Linked DNA regions of Homo sapiens: region 1 is linked to region 2. The links come from fine-mapping of genetic effects on plasma protein levels. A gene starts in region 2. The other region holds a variant in brackets. All regions are shown on one strand. Distances are between the middles of the regions.

The links. A credible set is the group of variants that fine-mapping cannot tell apart. PIP is the posterior inclusion probability: the model's chance that the variant is causal. Protein levels are from antibody-based Olink assays in UK Biobank. Linkage for the fine-mapping came from a reference panel and not from the study's own genotypes, which makes the PIPs less certain.
Region 1: its variant is the best candidate, but not a certain one, in a credible set for the plasma level of the THSD1 protein (UK Biobank, PIP 0.52).

Annotation. Positions count from the first base shown.
Region 1 is chr13:51,896,214-51,907,731 of GRCh38, forward strand. It overlaps a transcript of TMEM272 not described here. Among named protein-coding and RNA genes, the nearest start is that of CCDC70, 40 kb to the left of the region's middle. The variant T/A (reference allele first, on the strand shown) is at 6,050.
Region 2 is chr13:52,399,555-52,411,072 of GRCh38, forward strand. It overlaps THSD1 (thrombospondin type 1 domain containing 1), which reads right to left and starts at 6,618. Exons shown (of 5, transcript NM_018676.4): 1 at 6,477-6,618; 2 at 2,989-3,127. The coding sequence starts at 3,046. It also overlaps the pseudogene RNY4P24. RefSeq lists a silencer at 6,548-6,707.

The DNA.
Region 1 (11,518 bases), 500 kb before region 2:
GACTTGTCTTTTTCTCCAGCTCCTTCTAGCTGTGCCATCGGGGACAGCTTGGTGAATATAAAAGATTTTCAAAGCCTATAACAAGCCATATAGCTCTAGAGGGGTGTGTGTGTGTATGAGAGAGACAGAGAAACACGTGTGTGTAACACAAATGTATGTTTTTAGAATAATTATTGAAGTTTTCTTATCATTTCAGAGACTTGGTTTTAAGTGAAGGAACTATGTGAGCAGCAGCAGCATGTCCAGGAGAGGGCACCCTCTCACAGCCTGGCTAAAATGCTCAGGGCAGGTCCTGGTTCTGCAGTCACTGCCCTCTGGGGAAGGTTGTTCAAGTTGTCGGTGCACATGCCCCATGCACCCAGCCGGATGCCCTGAGAGGGGGATGCTGTGATTATCAGACAAAGCCTGTTGCGACCACCAGAGGAGGTCCATCTCTTCCCATGAGGCACCCCTGCAGCGGTCTTCTTACAGTGTCTCCAGAACCCGGCTGAGTACTTCCAACTGTGCACTGATCCTTGCCAGAAGCTTGGCCAGTTTGGTCGGCTTGGGGGTCTGACTGTTGTGAGAACAGTGGTCTCAGTTGGTCATGTGCTCAGGACAATTCAGAGAACTTAAAGAAACCCAGGTACCTGGGCTCCACTCCAGACATACTGAATCTGAATCACTGGGGTAGGACCCAGGCAGGTATGGATTTTTGAAACCCCACAGGTGATTTAGATGAGCACCTTGACAGGAGTTAGTCTGCCGCAGTTCCATGTACACCGTCAGAAGACACAAGACTCCTGAGTCAGAAACAAAGCACAGCAAGCAGCATAAACTTCATGTTCAGGTTGGTTCCCTTTGTTCTCTGGCACCACAGGGTGATGCAGAGTGGCCCAGGTGAATACAGAGCACACATTGGGTTCATCACAGCAGAGGAGCCCCAAGTTTCAGAAACCCAAATCTTTTGAAAGGCTGAAAGGACTGCAGGTAAACCTGCCCAACTTTTACACCATAGTAAGACATTGTCTTTTTTTTATTTTTTGGAGACAGGGTCTTGCTGTGGTGCCATCATGACTCACTGTAGCCCTGACCTAGGCTCAAGCAACCATCCTATCTCAGCCTCCAAAGTAGCTGGGACCACACATGCATGCCACCATGTCTGGCTAATTTTTTTTTTTTTTTTTTTTTTTTTTTTTTTTGTAGAGATGGAGTCTCATTATGTTGCCCAGGCTGATCTTGAACTCCTGGGCTCAAGTGACCTGCCTGCCTCAGACTTCCAAAGTGCTGGGATTACAGGCATGAGCCACTGTGCCTGGCCAAAATTATCTTTATTATCATACACAGTAAGAAAATCTGTCTTCCCTGGAGGGGGACTCTTATTTTTGTCTGCCAAGATGATTTCCTTTATAATCTTCTTGAAAAAAATAGTTGAAAAGATAACTAGAACAAGGCTGGGCGCAGTGGCTCATGCCTGTAGTCCCAGTACTTTGGGAGGCCGAGGTGGGTATATCACCTGAGGTCAGGAGTTGGAGACCAGCCTGGCCAACATGGTTAAACTCTGTCTCTACTGAAAATACAAAAATTAGCCAGGCATGGTGGTGCGTGCCTGTAATCCCAGCTACTCAGGAGGCTGAGGCAAGAAAATCACTTGAACCCAGGAGGCGGAGGTTGCAGTGAGCCAAGATCATGCCATTGCACTACAGCCTGGGTGACAGGGTGAGACTCCATCTCAAAAAAAAAAAAAAAGGGCTGGGCGCGGTGGCTCACGCCTGTAATTCCAGCACTTTGGGAGGCTGAGGTGGGTGGATCACAAGGTCAAGAGATTGAGACCATCCTGGCCAACATGGTGAAACCCCATCTCTACTAAAAATACAAAAATTAGCCAGGCTTGGTGGCGTGCACCTGTAGTCCCAGTTACTGGCTGAGGCAGGAGAATCGCTTGAACCTGGGAGGCAGAGGCTGCAGTAAGCAGAGACTGTGGCACTACACTCCAGTCTGGTAACAGAGCGAGACTCCATCTCAAAAATAAATAAATAAATAAATAAAATAAAATAAAAAGATAATTAGAACAAAAGTGCAGTGCCCCTGCTCATAAACATGCAGAAATACAAGAAACTCCTGGGGATTTTTCTCCTGACACACTCCTGGTTAAGAAGCACTAATGCAGGATATTGTTCTATATCTACATGCTTTTCAGTTTTCAAAGAACTAATTGAGAAATGAGCTCCTTATAATAGAGAGGATGGCTGCCTCATGGATGGAGAAATGGGCAACTGACTTATGGTGTGATGGCAGCTACCACTACATAAATATCATGCATTTTCTGAATGTTTTACAAAACAAACATCAGATTCACATTTGCAAAAGTAGGAGTAATGTAAGGGTTAAACTAAACAATATATGCAAAATGTTGGCACATACTAGATAATAAATGTTAGTTCTCTCTCCTCTTCTGCCCTTTGCCTACTTCACAGCCTATCCTGGCTGCACAAAGCCAACAAGAATGGCTTAGACTTATATCTTTTTCCTGCTAAGACGGCACTGTTGGAAGGAGTCCTTTGGGTCCTTTAAATGTGTTCCAGGAGAGGCACCCAGCATGCTAAAAAGGTAATAAAAATGACTGTGCCACCGGCAACCTGTTATCTAGGATTTCCTGATCTACCACTCACTTGATTCTACCTTGTACCTGCCTGTCATTCCTCCTCACTTTCTCTGCCTCAATCCCTGCTCCAATCTCACAGTACTAAACCTGTTCTCATCCACTGCTGATCACTGCTGGCCTTGTCAAGGCCACCTTCTAGAGACTGTCTAGACTGCATGTCTTACTCCCACAGCTCTTACTTATTAATTCATTTAGTAAGAATAATGGTAAGTAAATGAAACTATCTCTATTCACAGATGATATGATCTCTTATCTGGAAAATCCACAAAACACGCTTTCAGAACCAATGAACAAGTACAGTAAAGTTGCAGGATATGAGGTCAATATATAAAAAATCGATTGTATTTCTATATACTAGCGATGAATAATCTGAAGATGAAATCAAGGAAACAATTTACAATAGCATCTAGAAGAAAAAATACTTGAGATAAACAACATAGGTGCAAGGCTTCATAATCACACTGTATCCCATAAATATATACAGTTATTATGTGTCAATTAAAAACAGTAATAAAAGCCAGAAAAGGGTATAGCGACTGAAAGGTTTTTCCAGTGTACTTCTAATCAGCAACATTTGGCACTTGCAAAGAAAATGCAAGTCTTATACACTAAAAATTGTAAGATATCATGAAAGAAATTAAAGAAGGCCTAAATAAGTGGAAAGACATGCCATGTTCATGAATCAGAAGACTTAAGTATTAAGACGGCAATATTTCCCAAATTGATGAACAGATTCAACACTATCCTCTCAAAAATGTCATCTGGCTTCTATGTAGAAATTGACAAACTGACCCTAAAGTTAATATAAAAATGCAAGGGATCCAGAATAGCCGAAACAATCTTACAACAAAACTGGGGGACTCAAGTTTCTCTATTTCAGATCTTAATGCAAAGCTATAGTAATTAAGACCGCATGGCACTAGAAAAGGCTAGACATGTAGCTTAATGGAATAGAACTACATTTTTATTAAATTATGAATAGAAATAAATCTTTACTTTTATGGACAATTGATTTAGACAAGCCTAGGCAATCATATGGGAGATGAACAGTCTTTTCAATAAGTGGTGCTGGGACAACTGGATATTCACCTATAAAAGAATGAAGTTGGACTCCTATTACAAACCACATACAAAAATTAACTCAATATGGGTCATAGTCTTACATGCAAGAGTTAAAACTATGGAACTCTTAGGAGAAAACCTGGGAATAAATCTTTATACCTTGAATTAGGCAATGGTTTCTTAGACACTGAAATCACAGGCAAAAAAAGAAAAAAAATGTAAATCGGACTTCTTCAAAATAAAAATCTTTTGTGGTTTAAAGCACATAATCAAGAAAGTGAAAAGACAGCCACAAAATGGGAGAAGATACTTGCAAGTCACAGATCTGATAAGGGACTGGAGTCCAGAATAAATTAACTCTTACAAATCAACAAAAAAAGGACAACCCAATTTAAAAATAAGCAAATGAGTTAAATAGACATTTCTCCAAAGAGGATATACAAATGACCATGGAAAGATGCTCAACACTAATCATCAAGGAAATACAAATCAAAACCACAATGACATACCACTTCATATGCACTGAAATAAAAAAGACAGACAATAACAGTGTTGGTGAAGATGTGGAGAAATTGGAACTCTCATGCATCATTGATGGGATCAGAAAAAAGATGCAGCCCATGTGTCAGTTCTTCAATGTTAATGTAAAGATACAGTTACCATAATAGCCTAGCAATTCCACTCCCAGGTGTCTCTCCAAGAGAAATGAAATATAAGTCCACACAAAGACTTGTATGCAAATGTTCATGTCAGCATTATTCATAGTAGCCAAAAAAAAATGGAAACAACCCAAGTATCCATCAACGAATGAGTGGACAAACAAAATGTGATATATCCATAAAATGGATTATTATCCAGCAATAAAAATGAATGATGTATTACTGATACATGCTACAACACAGGTGAACTTTTAAATCATTATGCTAAGTATAAGAAGCCAGACACAAAAAGCCACACGTTTTATGGTTCCATTTATAGGAAATGCTCAGAATAGACAATTCTGTAGAGACAAAAAGTAGATACAAGGTTGCCAGGAAAGAGAAAGGCATGACTCCTAATGAGTACAGAGTTTTGTGGGAGAGAAGGGTGGTGAAAATGTTCTAAAATGTTAAAGTGGTGATGGTTGCACAATTCTATGAATATACCAAAAACCACTGAATTATAAACTTTAGAGGGGTGACATCTATGACGTGAATTATATCTCAATAAAACTTTTCTTTTTTTTTCAAGTGAGGCCCAGCCTTCTCATATTTGTGATGTTAATGTCCACACAACCTCATCTGTACTCACAAAATTGTGAAGGAAGAGAACCTGGGTCCACACACACTTTAATGAAGCACGGTTCCTGAGTGTGGCTGCATCTGGTCCAGCTAGAAAGTTGTGCCTGGCATTTGACCTGCTAAAAAGCCAAGTTCCACATGGTCTAGAGTTCAATGCAGAAATATCCCTGGTACATATAAAGAAACCACTCCTGCTAGAGGGGTGGCGCCCGGTGGAGCTGCCTGTGCCCCACCCGCCCTCCCATGCCTCACACCCCTCTCAGTTGTCAGTTGCCCCTGGAACAGGTACTTCTGGAAATTCATATAGCCAAGGAAAGTCAAAAATGAAGAAGAATCCAACAAAAACACAGAAATACATCAGTTGACTTGGGTCAATGGCATTACTAACTACCCCCGGAGAAGCCTGGACACATCTTCAGTGTCTCTATTTTCCTTTCTGCCCTCCCCCAGTGCCCACTCCATCCCAAGTCCCTTTACAAAGCTCTGTGACAGTGGCTCTCCTAAGTATCTAGAATCTACCTGCTCTCCTAAGGCTCACTGCCTCCCCGAGTTCAGGCTTTATCAGCCTCCTCCCACAAACACGTAGCCTCCTCCCTGCTTTCCCTACCTCCAGCCCAGCCTAGCTACAATCCTCTGGGCAGAAGCCCCATTGGGTGTGTTTACATTCCAAATTTGTGCAGAAAATCCACATAGCTTCATTGGGTTACCCAGTCCAGAGCAAAAACGCCAGGCCTTTCTCACTCTGTCATCCAAGCTCAAAATCCAAGAGAGGAGAGTTTCAAGGAGGAGGAGCTTGGGAAGTTATCCACTGGGGTCAAGCTCCATGGAAAGGTCATGTAATAAAAAAACTGAAAAGAATCACTTGGGATGTGGTATCAGGGGGGTTACTGCAGACCTCTGGAGAAGCCATTTCAGGGGTGAGGTCAGAAGCCAACGTGCATTGGATGAAAGAATAAATATAGGTGGATTCTCAGTTTTGTAAGATGTAAAAATCAAGAGAAGCAAAATGAAAAAAAGCACTGATGTTGAAGACAGTTTCCCAGTTGCCTTGTTACATTTTCAG[T/A]GTGGGACTGAAGGGGTGGTAGGCATTACTTCAACAGAATCACAACACATTTTGCCCTTCTCACGGCCTGGCGCCTGGAAAAGCTTTGGGAATTATTAGCTGCTGCTATTGATGTTGAGGGCACCCACATGCCTTTAGAACCAGAATCTAAAATGTTCAGCCTCTCAATGTCTAAAATGAACTGCTGCAATGTTGCAGATTTAAAAATTAGAGGAAAGTTATTTTATTAAATACATTTTAGAATATAGGTTTTATAGAAAGTATGTTATCATAGCTACTCTAGAAGCTGAACTTGGGAGAGTCCCATGGTTAGAGGGACTGAGCATTCTGCCAACAACCAGCCCCACCTTGCCAGCCAGGCCAGTGAGCCACCCCAGAAGCAAGGCCACCTGCCTCAGTCAAGCCTGCAGGTCACTTGCAGCCCTGATGGACAGTCTGTGGGCAACCTCCTGAGAAACCCAAACGGGAACCATTCTGCTAAGCTGCTCCCAAATCTCTGACACACACAGACTGTGAAATAACAAATATTCATTGTCCGTTTAAGGCACTAAGTTTTGGAGTAATTTATTTTGAGAAACAGATAACTAACACAGCCCTGACAGCAATTGGTTATTGGCTATGTGATGCCGAGGGAGTGGATAACTTCCTAGCATGGTGGCTTCTGCTCTGCAAGGGCAATTCTTCAGGAAGCAGGTGGCTGCGGTGAGCAATACTCAAAGCTGGGAGATGAGTGCATCCGCCTGGTAAAGGGGCCCTGGGCAAGGCACCAATAGCATCCACTGGGGGTGTTGATTATAATCTAGTACCTAAATATAGTTTTGGTTTTGACAGGTCAGTTTGTACACAAACACAATTGTGGAAATATTTTGCATTTCTTTTGAAGGTCTCACCTCCTTAGTGTGTGTATCCAGGAGGTACACAACTAGAACTGGATGCACGAGGCAGCAGCAGTGGGAAGCAGCAAGGTGATCTAGAGACACTTTATTTATTACTCACTAAGTCCCAAAAAGTGCTTGCAAATATAGAAAGTGCAGGTAGAGATGATCAATAATAACTAACTATAGTGTCTTCCCTTCATTGCCATTGAGGTCTTGGTTTCCAATAAGACACTTCATAACTCATTCCTAAGCATGCTGTTGGAAATGGGAGGGAGGGAGAGGTGGCACACCAACGAGGTCAGGGAGGGAAGAGAGACTCTACGTCAGATGACGATGTCTCAGTTGTCACTTCAGGTTCTGGCTGCTCTCTCCACTGTACAAGGAAAGCCACCAAATAGAGGGCAAACTGCTCCCCCTACTCTCCCCAGAACACCCCTTTTTCCTATCCCTAGGTGTAAGTGCAGGAGACCCTGAGCATCTAATGGAGTCAGATGCTAAGTTAAACACCCAGAAGTCCCGGTTTCTATGGGGCCAGAGGAAAAGGCAGAGTGCTATTTCCAGACTTCAGTGGCAACCGAAAAATGAAAAAGACTCGTGTGGGTGTGGGGCAAAGGCTGCCCCAGAATGCCCAAACTTTAGCTTCAATAAACCTATCATAGCCATAATGAGGCAGTGCTGGGGCAGAAAAGAGAACCATATAGGGTCTTCTGCTCTGGCAGAATCATACCTGGTTGTGCAACCAAAGTGTCTTCTCACACCTGCCTCCTATGACACCATTTGGGTTTCTCCAACAGTCTTCCACGTGTGTGTGTGTGTGTGTGTGTGTGTGTGTTTAGAAAGAAGCATCTGGTCACCAGAAACTCAAAGGCCAATAACTCTTAACAAAAATACATTCACACTGGACAAGTGAACACTCAATCTAACACACAGCACCTGTGGCCCTGGGATGCTAGGCATGAGGTGGTTTTCTGCAGTGCTGCTTCTCATTCACCATCAGCATCAGAATCAGCATGAGCTTAATGACTGCTTGTTGCCTGCTTTGCAGTGATGATGACAATGATGGTAATATTAATGATGATGATGATGATGATGTTAATGAGCCCATGGACCAGATTTAGTGCTGCTGCCTATTTTGAAATTAAGAAATACATGATGACAGAAACTGAATTCAGGTAGCACTGGGCTAAAGGCAGATGACTGATGACTGCTTGGTGGCTAGCTTATATGCAATTCTTATGATGACCCTAAGGTAATTGTTGTTGATGATGATGATAATGATAATTGATGATCATGATCATGATGAGTCAGATCTGGGAAAACATCACCTGGCCTTCAGCAGCTAATGCATAGTAGTAATGAATAATTTTCTCTGGGCTTGAATAGGAATTCATGGTATGGACGTGGAAAAGAAGGAGGCTCTAGATCAAAAGAGAAAAGATAAGCATGGTCCGTTTTCAAGATATTGTGAAAAGTACAGGTTGAGCAATCCAAAAATCTGAAATGCTCAAAATTCTGCAACTTTTTGAGTATCAATATGATGCTCAAAGGTCATGCTCAAAGGAAATGCTCATTGGAGCATTTTAGATTTTAGATTTTCAGTTTGGGAATGCTCAACCAGCAAATATAATGCAAATATTCCAAAATCCTAAATCTAAAACACTTCTGGCTCCAAGCATTTCAATTAAGAAACATTCATTCTGTACTGATGTGGAGGCTGAAAACCTTGAATTTTATTTACCAGGTAGGGGAACATCATCATTAGTAGTGTTTCTTAACCTCATTAGTACTGACATTTTGGAATAGATAATTGCTGTGGGAGTCTGTTCTGTGTGCTGTGGGGTGTTTAACAGCATCCCTGCCCTCCAACCACTTGACGCCAGTAGCACACCTCCAGTAGTTACTGTGTAAAATATCTGTGGACATTACCAAATGCTCCTGGGGGAGGTCAAAAGCACCCTCGTTGAGAAGCATTGAGCTAAGAGAAACAGCAGACAACACGAAGCAGTCAACAGAGAACGGCCCTAAGCAGGAGAAGAAATGTCAGGCTGAAGGCAGTTCGTGCAGGGAGAGAGACTGTCCTCCCTCTTCCAGAGAAAAGAGCTGTCACGACACTGGACGAGGGCCCAGAGGCAGGACTTCAGAGCAACAACCTCAGAGAGCCATGATTCCAGAGCAGTCTCAGTGCCTGCTGTCACCACCTCGGACACGGCAGGTCCCACTCACCTCGGCTAGAGCTGCACCTGACTCACCCAGTCAGGGAGATGCCACTGTCTTCCTGAGGCCCTCTCATTTGGAGAGCACCTTCTTCAGAGCAACCCAAGGGAAGCCGGAGTTCCTCTTCAGCAGGGCTTTGAGATGCTTTCTAGCATGCCAGGTCCCTCCCTTCACAAAGGAAACACCCAGAGAGCAGGGAGGCAAGGGGCAAGCCCTCCCTCGCAGCGGCGCGGTCGACCCAAGCAGGAAGTGGAATCCTGCAGGGAAGCTGCCCAGAGCCCCTCTGCCTGCCACAGGTCCCTGTAAAAATGGTAGAATAAGTGCTAGGAAATGCAAATTGTAATCAAGGGCCATGCGACACTTAAAAAACTACACCTTGGTTTCCAAAGAAACAGAATGCTATTATGAGAGGCTCTGCCTCATTAGCCTCGGTTAATGTCAGCGTGTGTCTGAGGACAATGCCCCATGGTTCTATGATGGAGAGCAACTCAGCTGTGATGCCGCCTTCTCTTCTTCAATCGGATTGAGAATGAAGGCTTCACCTGTGGCTCTGAAGCAGACAGGTAGGAGTCTCACTGAGACACCTAGACGCAGAACAAATGACTCACCAGGATGAAGCTCCACCACTGCACAGCAGAGGAACGTGCACTGTACCCAGTGATGACTTGGGGCTCGGGCTCTGGGAGCCAGTGTGGCTCCTTACAGGCTGTGTGTTCTGGAGGGACTGAAATCTTCTCCTAGCAAATGGTGGACCAGGCTGGGGTCCCTGGAGCAAAGAGCAGCATGCAGGGCTGGGCTGTACCTGGGCATGTCAGTACCCCCTGCAAAGGTTAACTTAGCCCGCTAAGGGGACTCCCTGAGGCATCTAATTCAAAGGGTGAAATAATCTATTGAGTGCAGCCACACAGAATGAGCAGTTATGGGGGAGAGAAGGGATTCACTGAAACAGGGCAGGCTTTGTAGGGCTCCCATAGCTCCACCCTTGGGCCCAGGGCAACTCCTAGGGCCCCAAGCCAATTTTGAGCCCCCAGCAAGACAGGGAGCCCCTAGAGCTTCAGTATTCTCATATGAAAAACTAGGATAATGAGGCCTAACCACAGGTGACTGTGAGAACAAGGAAGAACATATGAGAAAGTGCTTCATGGGCCCTAAAGTGGGGAGTAAATGTTGGTTGTTATTGGCCTAATTGCATATGCTTTACAAATGGTACTTTCATTGTAATAAAGCATCTGCATTTCTACAGGAGAAGTTCTAGAGTTATTTTAACTCCTGATAAGAAAATAATATGTCCATGAGAGACCCTGACCCTGAGGCATTCAAACAGTTTGCAAACAGGCCTGGGCTCCCTGCCAGCACAGGCAGGCACTCCCCGGGATCCCAGGCCCTAGGGCAGTTTCAGAGACAGCAACCCAAAGCCATGCCAACTCTCCTCTAGAAGTACAAACAGTCCCTGCAGGCTCCTGGACAAACATCCAACTGACCCTTGATGCTGGGGACCAACAGTGAAAGGGAAGCTATACCCTGACTCCACATTAGCAAAGACGAATGAGCTGGAACTCACTTCTTTCTGCTCTTCCTATGTGATCTGGTCTGTTCAGAAACGCCTTTGCAGTGCTCTGAAGCCACATCTTCTGTAGCAGGTTGTTTGCAAAAACAACTGCAATGACCCTCCCCTCCCACATGGTTAATGTTCCTCTCCTCCCAACGTGAGCAGGGATCTGGGGTGCATCTGTGACTTGCTTTGACCCATGGGATGCAGCAGAAGTGATGTTGCATAACTTCCAAGCTGAGGCTTTACGTGGCCTTGTGGCTTCTGCTGTCTTGAACGGCCTTTGACATCCCCTAAGGGAGCTCACTCTAGAGCCCTTCATGAGAGGCCACATGAAGACAGAGGCTCTGATACCATATTAACCATGTCTTTTTATGTATTCTGACACTTCAACATCTAGGGCCTTGCTGACCTTGGCAGGTCTGTCCCTCCCAGGGTTAGCCAATTCCTAGAGACAGTAAACAACTTGCCCTTGAGCGTGCTTTTCACACACAAACTAACCAGTCGAGAGCTCATGCCCCCAGCTGCCTACTTCATCAGCCTTCCACAGGACTCACACACTCTAGGCCACTATTCCTCTGCCCTAAGCACCCCAAGGCCAGGTACCAGACAACTAGGGACAGCCCCTATACCCAGAGCCTGCTGAAACTACTCAAACTATAATAGCTAACCTTAACCCTGCTCACCTTGCCTCACTCATTCCTTCCCATGGAAACCACCGTAAAGGCTCTTGCCCATGTTTTTCCATCACTCCTATCTTCTCGCTGACCATACTGCCTCCCTATTCGGTGCTGCATGGCATAGTACTTTCCCTTCTGTTGGGATCTG
Region 2 (11,518 bases):
ACATGAATACCTTGGCACACAGAGGAGTTTTTAATTAGCACAGCATTTCACCTAGTTCTCATTTGAGATGAGGTGAAATAAAAGACATAAAACTTGGATGACTTGAATGCTTGATTATCACTTGTTTGAAAACCATAATAGGATAAAGTTCTTTTTTTCTCCAATTAAGCAAAAACAAGTTGAGGGATATTCCCTTTTGTTTGGAGATGACTCAAAGTTGAGGAAGGTGGCTGATTCTGGTGCAGCTTGTGTACTGGATCAGACCCAACCTGGTACCTTTCTTGAACTACTGTGTAAAGAGACCCCAGCACTTACCACAGCCCAAGCAAGTGCTTAAGACTGAGAACAAAGTCATACTAATTTGGATCTGAAGGGGGCAGGATGGTTCTGTGGTCCATTTAAGAATAAGAGGCATACACCACTTAGTTAACTAATGAAAGTCTATTGCAGGCTGGTCCGATGGTAGCAGGTTATCAGAACTTATTAACATTAGTGTCACCAAAGTTGGTATATGACCCCCAACTACTAAATTTGACTGGCTTAAAAAAAAAAAAAAAGCAGTCTCTTGTGTATGACAGGGATTGTCAGTGAAGCAGATCAGATTCTGATTGATGGGAGCCAGTCAATGAAAAAGACACACATGCCCCGTTGGAAATGGAAAACAAAGATGCAATTGATGAGTTCCAGCAGCAGCAGATAGGAGGTATGTACTAGAGGGAGAATTTGCTACTTTAGAGCTCCTGTTAGAAAACTACAATTTGGGCCAGGCACGGTGGCTCACACCTGTAATCTCAGCACTTTGGGAGGCCGAGATGGGTGGATCACCTGAGGTCAGGAGTTCAAGACTGGCCTGGCCAACATGGTGAAACCCTGAATCTACTAAAAATACAAAAATTAGCTGGGCATGGTGATGGGCGCCTGTAATCTCAGCTACTCAGGAGGCTGAGGCAGGAGAATTGCTGGAACCCGGGAAGTGGAGGGTGCAGTAAGCCGAGATTGCACCATTGCACTCCAACCCGGGCCGACAACAGCGAGACTCCATCTCAAAAAAACAAACAAACAAACAAACAAAAAACTACAATTTGGTTCTACCACATCCTGACTACTGTAATATACAGGTAATGCTAAATTTTGATCAGTATTAAGTAGAGATAAAGCAGGGTAAAACAGATCTACGACAATACCTACTTTTTTTATCAGTGGCTTGTGCACTCAACCTCTATGCTCTTTTTTTATGCTCATTCAACTTTCATTTTCATATTCCAGTAAGAAATTTTGCTATTAACAACAAACACCCTTGTATAATTTGTTTAAATGGAGAATTTCGATGCTTTATTTATCATTATGAAACCAAGAACACATACTTTTTTGTAGAAGGCTGTTACATGTAGAGTAATCTGTGTTTTTTTGTTTTTGTTTTTTTGTTTGTTTGTTTTTGAGACGGACTTTTGCTCTTGTTGCCCAGGCTGGAGTGCAGTGGCATGATCTCGGCTCACCACAACCTCCGCCTCCCGGGTTCAAGTGATTCTCCTGCCTCAGCCTCCCAAGTAGCTGAGATTACAAGTGCGTCTCACCACATCCAGCTAATTTTTGTATTTTTAGTAGAAACGGGGTTTCACCATGTTGGCCAGGATGGTCTCAATCTCTTGACCTCGTGATCTGCCCGCCTCGGCTTCCCAAAGTGCTGGGATTACAGGCGTGAGCCACTGCATCCAGCCAGAGTAATCGGTTTTTAAGAAGGGATAAATTACTTTTTTTTTTTTGAGACAGAGTCTCGCTCTGTCACCCAGGCTAGAGTGCAGTGGTGCGATCTCGGCTCACTGCAAGCTCTGCCTCCCGGGTTCACGCCATTCCCTGCCTTAGCCTTCCGGGTAGCTGGGACTACAGGCACCTGCCACCACATCCGGCTAATTTTTTTGTATTTTTAGTAGAGATGGGGTTTCACTATGTTAGCCAGGATGGTCTTGGTCTCCTGACCTGGTGATCCGCCCACCCCGGCCTCCCAAAGTGCTGGGATTACAGGCATGAGCCACCGCGCCCGGCCAAATTACTTTAAAATAAATGAATCCCACACTGGCTTTCCTTAAATCCGGTGTCTTCTTGTATAAATAAACTTCTTAAAAAAGAAAAGACTGAGAAAGGAGGTCTACTGAATGAAATGAACAGCACAGGCTCTGGTCCATTTAACCAGCTATGCCATTCACATTACACAAGCCAGTGTCCTCTATATCTTGGATCACAATTTCTTTACCAAATTCAAAAACAACTTCCACTGCCATGCAATCAACTGCTTAGATGTCTATGAAATATTTGGAAATCATCAAAAGTAGTGAAGATTATATCATATTGTTGACTCTATTGTTCAGTAGTTGTATAAAGCTCTCTGAGAAATGAACTCAATTTTTAGGTGAAACGAATGACGAGAACAGACTTTAAGCACCTACTATTTGCTCATTCAGGGTGTTTTGCACTCTTGATATTATCATAACAACCCTGTAAAGTCAATATTATTGCTGAGATTGAAAGAGATTAAGAAACTTTTCTAAGAGCACGCAACTTTCAAGGATTGAAATTCAGATTGGGTCCAAATGTATGTTAGCACCAAAACTCGGTCAAGTGAAATCTTATGTAGAACCCTAATATACACAACATCATTGCATGTGTGTATGAAGTGATTTATCACACTTAATTACTGGGAAATCAAAGAGAACTCAAGGTAACATGCTTGCCTCCAATTTGTTAAAATTTGAGAGAGTTGGTTTTTTTATTTTTTTAAGAGTTAAAAATATAAAATGAAATACGAATCAATCATGCAGAATCACTGAAGCATAAGAGAACCCAGGGTTGCAAGGGTCACAGTTGAGAAAGCACTGCACTATATACCCTACCCTGCCTCCTTCAGGAAGAGTCATCAACATCAATGCATTTATAATGTCATCTTTATGTCTTATTGCTACCAGTAGCGTTAAGTATACTCACAATACTCACCATAGTCACAGAGTACCACCAACAATAGATTTGAAAAGTCTTTCAACATTGGTTTCATTCTGATTGACAAAATCCCAGGTCTTTAGTCTCCTCATGTCCTTTCTCACGTCCAGATTGTGATTTTTTTCCCCAAAAACACCTGAAATTAGAACCTCAAAAAATGATGGCTCCGTTCAATGTGATTGATAAAATAGTAATCATTAAATGACAAAACCATTCTAAAACTCAAACTTTCTAAGTGATATTGAAAGGAAACTAGAGAGGACACTAATTTTCCCTGGGGCAATGACTTATAATTATACAAGCCTTTTTCATTCCATTATAACTCACAGGTCAAGAATATGCAGGTATGCCCAACACCCACTAAAATTATCTTTGCACAACACCAAAGTCTCTTCTCTTTACAGCACATCCTGACGTGGAGAGTTTATTGTTATTTGCTTAATTTTATCAAAGTTAATAGCCAATTTGGATACATTTTCACATTATTTATCTGCTTGGCATTTCACACTGATCAATTTACTAAATTTCTGCTAAACTTTAATTTAGCATTGTGCTGTGTATACCCAAATGCTCCCTGCCTGGCGTCCACAAATGGGCTAACATTTCCTTGCACAATTGGTGTGTTACCAGGATTGCTTCATTTATCAATTCCTAGGAGCTACATCCAAGTGATCAAAGCTTTTTTAAAAAAAAGATACCCCAGAATACTACAATTAAATATGAACTCCATGTGGCCCTGACTTCCCTTGTTTAGGGCAGCCTAAGGAGAAAACAGACAAATAACAATCATCTTCATCAGTCCTGCAATACTTGTTGCTGCTGGTATGCATCACGAGATCGGTGGTTCACACAGCAATCTTCCCAGTCTACCTAAGAGGGCAGGGAAGACCTTGCTGGCCTGTGGTTCAGTTATTTGTTGGAAGAAGCACTTATTTTATTTTATTTATTTATTTAGAGATGGAGTCTCACTCTGTCGCCTAGGCTGGAGTACAGTGGCGAGATCTCGGCTCACTGCAAGCTCCGCTTCCCGGGTTCACGCCATTCTCCTGCCTCAGCCTCCCGAGTAGCTGGGACTACAGGCGCCCACCACCATGCCCAGCTAATTTTTGGTATTTTTAGTAGAAACGGGGTTTCATTGTGTTAGGCAGGATCTCGATCTCCTGACCTCGTGATCTGCCCATCTCAGCCTCCCAAAGTGCTGGGATTACAGGCGTAAGCCACCGCACCCGGCTGGAAAAGGCACTTATTTTTATATAGACTATTCAACTATAGAATAAGATACTGGGCATTTAAGACAGTTCTTTCATACTAGAGTCTAGCAAACTATGTATTAATATTAAATATAACCAAATATGTACTTTCTTAATGTTTAAGGTCCCCCCCATTATTCACATTTTTTTTTTTTTTTTTTTTTTTTTTTTAGACAGAGTCTTGCTCTGTCACCTAGCCTGGAGTGCAGTGGCATGATCTTGGCTCACTGCAACCTCCACCTCCCAGGTTCAAGTGATTGTCCCACCTCAGGCTTCTGAGTAGCGGGGATTATAGGTGTGCACCACCACGCTTGGCTAATTTTTGTATTTTTAGTAGAAACGGTGTTTCACCACTTTGGCCAGGCTGGTCTCAGATGTCTGGCCTCGTGATCTGCCCACCATGGCCTCCCAAAGTGCTGGGATTACAGGCGTGAGCCACCACACCCAGCCCACAGTTAATCATTTTAATAAGCAAGTATATTATATTCCAAATACATGTTACATCTTTTCAGATAAGAGCACAAATTAGTGGAATTAAGAAGACTGATTGAAATAAGCCAGAATTCAATGGAAGGGAAACTGGTGTGTCTTATTAGCTTTCTTTCAGCAAGAGCTGCTGAACAAAGGAAATACTGTACTTCCTGAAAGGGAAACAGAGATTTGAAGTGTAACTATGCAGATTAGGGCTCCTTCCTCTTCCCCGCCACCCCCACCCAAAAAAAAGAAAAGAAAGGAAAGAAGAAGAAAATTGTTTTGGGTGGAATTAGCCACAGACTTGACCCAATTCTTTCCTCGAACATGGACTGGGAAACCTGGGCAAAGTCAGCCAGTAAGATCCTTGCAGAACACATCACATCACTTGGGCAAGTGTGAGCACTTAAGACAATTACAATGCTTCTTTTAAGTCACTGAGACCTGGTAACCAAACTAAGAAGAAGCAAGCTCCCAAAAGTTGAACTGGCTTCTCTCAGATTTGTTTGCTTCCACGACAATAACATTTTTATTTTTGAAGCCCCAAATCATTACTGATTTAGTGATTATAACACATTTTCTTTCTTATGAAAATGATCGGTAAAACATAGAATGGTGAGACAATCTATATTTAGAGCTGAATGGAAAAAGACTTATAAAACAGACCAGCCTACTTGTCAATCATAATATGGAATATGATCATAACATTAGTCATAATATGTCTCTTTAATTTCTTTCTACCTTGCTTATTTTCTTTCAACATGTTGTTCTCAATACCTCGACTGACTTCTTACAATGTTTGCATTGAGAATTGTTCTAAGAAATTAAGAACTTAGATATATTTTATACACATTTGAAAATACTTCTACCTAGCATTCTTGTATGTAAACTTTAGAGACAAATTCTAAATGCATCAGCTGAGAAGGTGGGGAAAAGTTGTGAATATTCTCAATGGCTAACAGCATCACCCAACCTGAGACCCCATGTTTTTGCTGAAACCAGCTAGGACAAACGCTTCTAAATCTCCCTTCATAGCTGCAGAAAAAGTAAATGAATTACACTAATGTCCATGGGACCAATGATTCGTGAAAGAATAAAATGGAAAACGAAGCAGTTATTTTGTCCCTTCTGACCAACATGCACATGCTTGTGTGTATATATACCAATAGTATTTATTGGGAGGAAATCTCTAGTTCTAAAGCAGCTCGTGTAAACAGGCTTCATTTATCTGTTCATTCGAGTTTGCTCTGCCCTGGTCCCACAGGTTGGGTGCAGCGTTCCTGGGACGCCCTGGCTCGCCCCATCTACTCAGCTTCCCAAATGCCCGCAAGCCCAGTTCACGCCTGGAAGTCTACCCCTCGCGTCGTCAGCTTAAAGCCCTCCTTAATGAGGACCGTCTTTAATTTAATTTAATCCTTGTATTTCATACTTTTTGTATATCAGAAAGGATTTCTTTTTGGAAAGAAACAGTAGCTCAAGACGCGATTTTTCAAGGTTCTGTGGCCAGTCTCAGTCACTCGGCAACATCTGAGCCAAGGCAGAGCCAGGTTCACTTAAATTCGGGACTCCGAAGTGTGGAGACCAATACCCCTTAAAAGCGTCCCCTGGGGCCGAGGCGGGTGTGGGGAGGGGCCGCCACCGTCCACCTGCGCCTTCAGGCTGCGGTGAGGTGGCAGAGTCCGGAGGCATTTCCCGACCCCAGAGGAGCCTCCAAGAGTCTCGCGGCACGGGCGCGAACACCAGGATGCGGAGGGCGCTTCTTACCTTTCGAGACTGACGGGCAGCAACCCCAGGCCGTCCGGGCGCGTGGCGAGGCGGACGGGAAGGCTCAGGGGCGGCGAGGTAGAGCGCCAAGCATCCCGCGTCCCAGACTGCACGCCCTGACCCCGCGGCGTTCGGCTCCCACAGCCCCGCGGGGCCCGCCCCCGACGGCGTGGGGAGGGCGGGCGCCGGGAGGGCGGGGGGCACACGGGACCGGGCGTGGTCGGTTCCCGCCCCTTCTGGGCAGCGCATCCTTTCCTGCCGGTCCCCAGCTCGCCAGCTGCTGGACAGGAAACAGGCAGGAAACGCGCGGCCAGCCAAGGTCCTGCGGGAGGGGGTGCGGCCCCGGCAGACGCAGGTCCCCTCAACACACACCCGCATCCACAGCACACAGCCGGACCAGGGGTTTAACGAAGGACGAGCGAGCAATCTCCTGACACTTCACATTCAATCACTTCTACTCTAGTGTCATTTTCTTCAGGGAGACCACAAAAATAAGTCCTTGAAGCGGCACAGCATGTGGGCTGTAAACTTGCTTTCCCAAATGTCACTGAAGAGTTTCAAAAGAACATAGTTCAGGTAAAGTGCATCTCCATTTTCTTTCCCTGGGGTCAGAATTGGTATTAAAAATAACTAAACATTTTAAAAACTCTACTCTGCAAGTGTTAAAGTTCTTTTTATAGGAATGTGAATTAGTTCAGCCACTGTGGAAAGCAGTTTGGAGATTTCTCAACTAAAAACAGAAAGATCATTCGACCCAGCAATCCCATTACTGGGTGTATGCCCAAAGGAAAATAAATCATTCTGCCAAAAAGACACCCGCACTATGTTTATCACAGTACTATTTACAATAGCAAAGACATGGAATCAACCTAGGTGCCCATCAACAGTAGACTGGGTAAAGAAAATGTGGTACATACACACCACGAAATACTAAACAGCCATAAAAAAAGAACAAAATCACGTCCTCTGTAGCAACATGGATGCAGTTGGAGGACATTATCCTAAGTGAATTAACATAGGAACAGAAAACCAAACACCGAATGTTCTCACTTATAAGTGGGAGCTTAAACAACGGGTACTCATGGACATAAAGATGGCAACAACAAACACTGGAGACTCCAAGTCAAGGGAGGGAGAGAAAGGGGCAAGGGCTGAAAAACATCCTATTGGGTACTGTGTCCGGAATTGGTGGGTTCTTGGTCTTTCTGACTTCAAGAATAAAGCTGCGGACCCTCGCGGTGAGTGTTACAGTTCTTAAAGGCGGCCTGTCCGGAGTTTGTTCCTTCTGATGTTCGGATGTGTTCAGAGTTTCTTCCTTCTGGTGGGTTCGTGGTCTCGCTGGTTCAGGAGTGAAGCTGCGGACCTTCGCCATGAGTGTTACAGCTTTTAAGGCGGCGCGTCTGGAGTTGTTCGTTCCTCCCAGTGTGTCCGTAGTCTCGCTGGCTTCAGAAGTGAAGCTGCAGACCTTCGCAGTGAGTGTTACAGCTCATAAAGGCAGTGTGGACCCAAAGAGTGAGCAGCAGCAAGATTTATTGCAAAGAGCCAAGGAACAAAGCTCCCACGCTTTGCAAGGGAACCCCAGCGGGTTGCCACTGCCGGCGCGTGCAGCCTGCTTTTATTCTCTTATCTGGCCCCACCCACATCCTGCTGATTGGTTCATTTTACAGAGAGCGGAGTGGTCTGTTTTGACAGGGCGCTGATTGGTGCATTTACAATCCCTGAGCTAGACACAAAGGTTCTCCACGTCCCCACTACATTAGCTAGATACAGAGTGTCCACACAAAGGTTCTCCAAGTCCCCACAAGAGTAGCTAGATACAGTGTCCATTGGTGCATTCACAAACCCTGAGCTAGACACAGGGTGCTGATTGGTGTGTTTACAAACCTTGAGCCAGATAGAGTGCCGACTGGTGTATTTACAATCCCTTAGCTAGCCATAAAGGTTCTCCAAGTGCCCACCAGTGAGGAGCCTAGCTGGCTTCACCCAGTGGATCCCGCACCGGGGCTGCAAGTGGAGCTGCCTGCCAGTCCCGCGCCCTGTGCCCGCACTCCTCAGCCCTTGGGTGGTCGATGGGACTGGGCGCTGTGGAGCAGGGGGTGGTGCTCGTCAGGGAGCTCGGGCCTCACAGGAGCCCATGGAAGGTGGGGGAGGCTCAGGCATGGCGGGCTGCAGGTCCCGAGCCCTGCCCTGCTCAGGGAGGCAGCTAAGGCCCTGCGAGAAATTGAGCGCAGCGCCGGTGGGCCGGCACTGCTGGGGGACCCAGCACACCTTCTGCAGCTGCTGGCCCAGGTGCTAAGCCCCTCATTGCCCGGGGCCGGCAGGGCCCACCGGCCGCTCCGAGTGCGGGCCCGCCGAGCCCACACCCACCCGGAACTCGTGCTGGCCCGCAAGCACCGTGCGCAGCCCCGGTTCCCGCCAGCGCCTCTCCCTCCACACCTCCCCGCAAGCTGAGGGAGCCAGCTCCAGCCTCAGCCAGCCCAGCCCAGGAAGGGGCTCCCACAGTGCAGCAGCGGGCTGAAGAGCTCCTTAAGTGCCGCCAAAGTGGGAGCCCAGGCAGAGGAGGTGCTGAGAGCCAGCGAGGGCTGTGAGGGCTGCCAGCACGCTGTCACCTCTCAGTACTATGTTCATTATCTAGGTGACAGGATCAATAGAAGCCCAAACCTCAGCAACATGCAATTACCCTTGTAACAAACCTGCATATGCACCCCCAAATCTAAAACTAAAATTTAAAAAAGAGTTTTAAGTTTTTGGGAATATATGAGAGGATAGATTCCACCTTAACAGCTGTGCTTGTTAAATTGAGTAACTATGCAGTATGGTTTAACACTTGCTTTTCTTTTATGCAGAATATACCATTTGACAGCAAAACTAATATCCGGTATGCAGAATATACCATTTGACAGCAAAACTAATATCTGGTAATGGAAATCAAAGCACAGTGGTGGCCTTTGGAGAGCGATGACAGGAAAGAGGCACCAGGAAACTTTTAGGGGGCGACAGATATGTTCTACTGTTTGGAGTGTGAGTTACATGGATTTACTAAGCATTTGTTAAAACTTGTCTGACTGAAGATCTGTGCATTACAGTTTGTAAACTGTACCTCATTTAAAAAAAAATTTTTAAATATGTGATTTGCAGGTCTTTGACTCTATCACTTCATTTTTAAAAAGGTAGCACAAGTATTTACTTATATGTTACCAGAGGTATAAAATTTTCTAAGAACTTATATTGTCAGCCAGGTGCAGTGGCTCATGGCTGTAATCACAACAATTTGGGAAACCAAGGCAGGAGGTTTGCATGAGCCCAGTACTTTTAGACCAGCCTGGGCAAAACAGCAAGACTCCATCGCCACAATAAATAAGAAATTATTTGGGAGGCCAAGGCAGGTGGATCGCTTGAGCTCAAGAGTTCAAGACCAGCCTGGGCATCATGGCAAAACCCTGTCTCTACCAAAAATAGAATGTACTAGCCGGCTGTGATGGCACGTGCCTGTGGTCCCAGCTACTTGGGAGGCTGAGGCAGGAGGATCACTTGAACCCAGGTGGAGGCTTCAGTGAGCCAAGATGATGCCACTGCACAGGCTGGGTAAGACCCCGTCTCAAAAAATAAAATAAATAAAAAATTAGCCAGGTGTGGTGGCATGTACCTGTTGTCCCAGCTACTCTGGAGGCTGAGGTGGGAGAATTACTTGAGCCCGAGAGGTTGGGGCTACAGAGAACAGTGATCACGCCACTGCACTCCAGCCTACATGACAGAGTGAGACCAACCAATCTTGTCAAATAGTTACTTCTAGCAATACTAATTAAATCCATCCAAAGTTTCAAAGAAGACTTTAAGGTGATCATCCAATTTCACTGCCAGTAGAATTATCTAGTCTAATTTCCATTCACCAATTTACACTAGGATTCTTTTTCAAATACATACCACCCACTCCCTGGCATTTCAGTTTTAAAAGCAAAAGCTCAGTGGAAAGAGCAGGCATTGGAGTTACAAAAGTACAAAAATTATCTGGTGTGGTGGTGTGCACCTGTAGTTCCAGCCATCAGGAGGCTGAGGCGGGAGGACTGCTTGAGCCCAGAAGGCAGAGGTTGCAGTGAGCCGAGATTGTGCCACTGCGCTCCAGCCTGGGCAATAGAACCAGACCCTGTCTGAAAAAAAAAAAAAATTATATGGGGGTATAAGGAACCCAGAACAGGATAAAACAATCTTGAAAATGAAGAGCGTATTTGGAGGACTCACACTTTCCAATTTCAGAACTTACTACAGGCTGGTTCATGCCTGTAATCCCAGCACTTTGGGAAGCCAAGGCAGACGGATCACTTGAGGTCAGGAGTTTGAGACCAGCCTGACCAACAGCGAAACCCCATCTCTACTAAAAAAAAAAAAAAAAAAAAAAAATTAGCTGGGGATGGTGGCACACACCTGTAGTCCCAGCTACTCAGGAGGCTGAGGCAGGAGAATTGCTTGAACCCGGGAGGCGGAGGTTGCAGTGAGCCGAGAATGTGCCACTGCACTCCAGCCTGGGTGACAGAGTGAGAGTCGGTCTCAAAAAAAAAAGTAACTTACTACAAAGCAGTAGTAATCAAGACAGTGTGATATTAGCAAAAAGATAGATAAATAGCTAGAAATGCAAGTTCAGAAACTCATATCTATGGTCAATTGAGTTTTTAAAAATTACTTTTTAAAACAAAAAACCCCATATGCAAGCATATGGTCAATTGTTTTTTGACAAGTGTGCCAAGACCATTTAATGGTCAACTAATGGTGCTGGCATAACCAAATAGCCACATGCAAAAGAATGAAGTTGGACCTCCTCCTTACACTGCATACAAGTAAAAAGATACACTTTTAGATAAGCCTAGATTAAATTCCAGCCCTGACACTGCAAATCTGGGTAGATTTCTTAATCCCTCCTTCCCTTCACTGTAGAAAGCATATAATAGTTATTGTGAAATATTATAGTGATTAAGTGAAACATATCGGAGGCAGCTTTCTCTGCATTAATCTTTCAGGCACATACTTTTTCCCCAAAAAGCTACTCT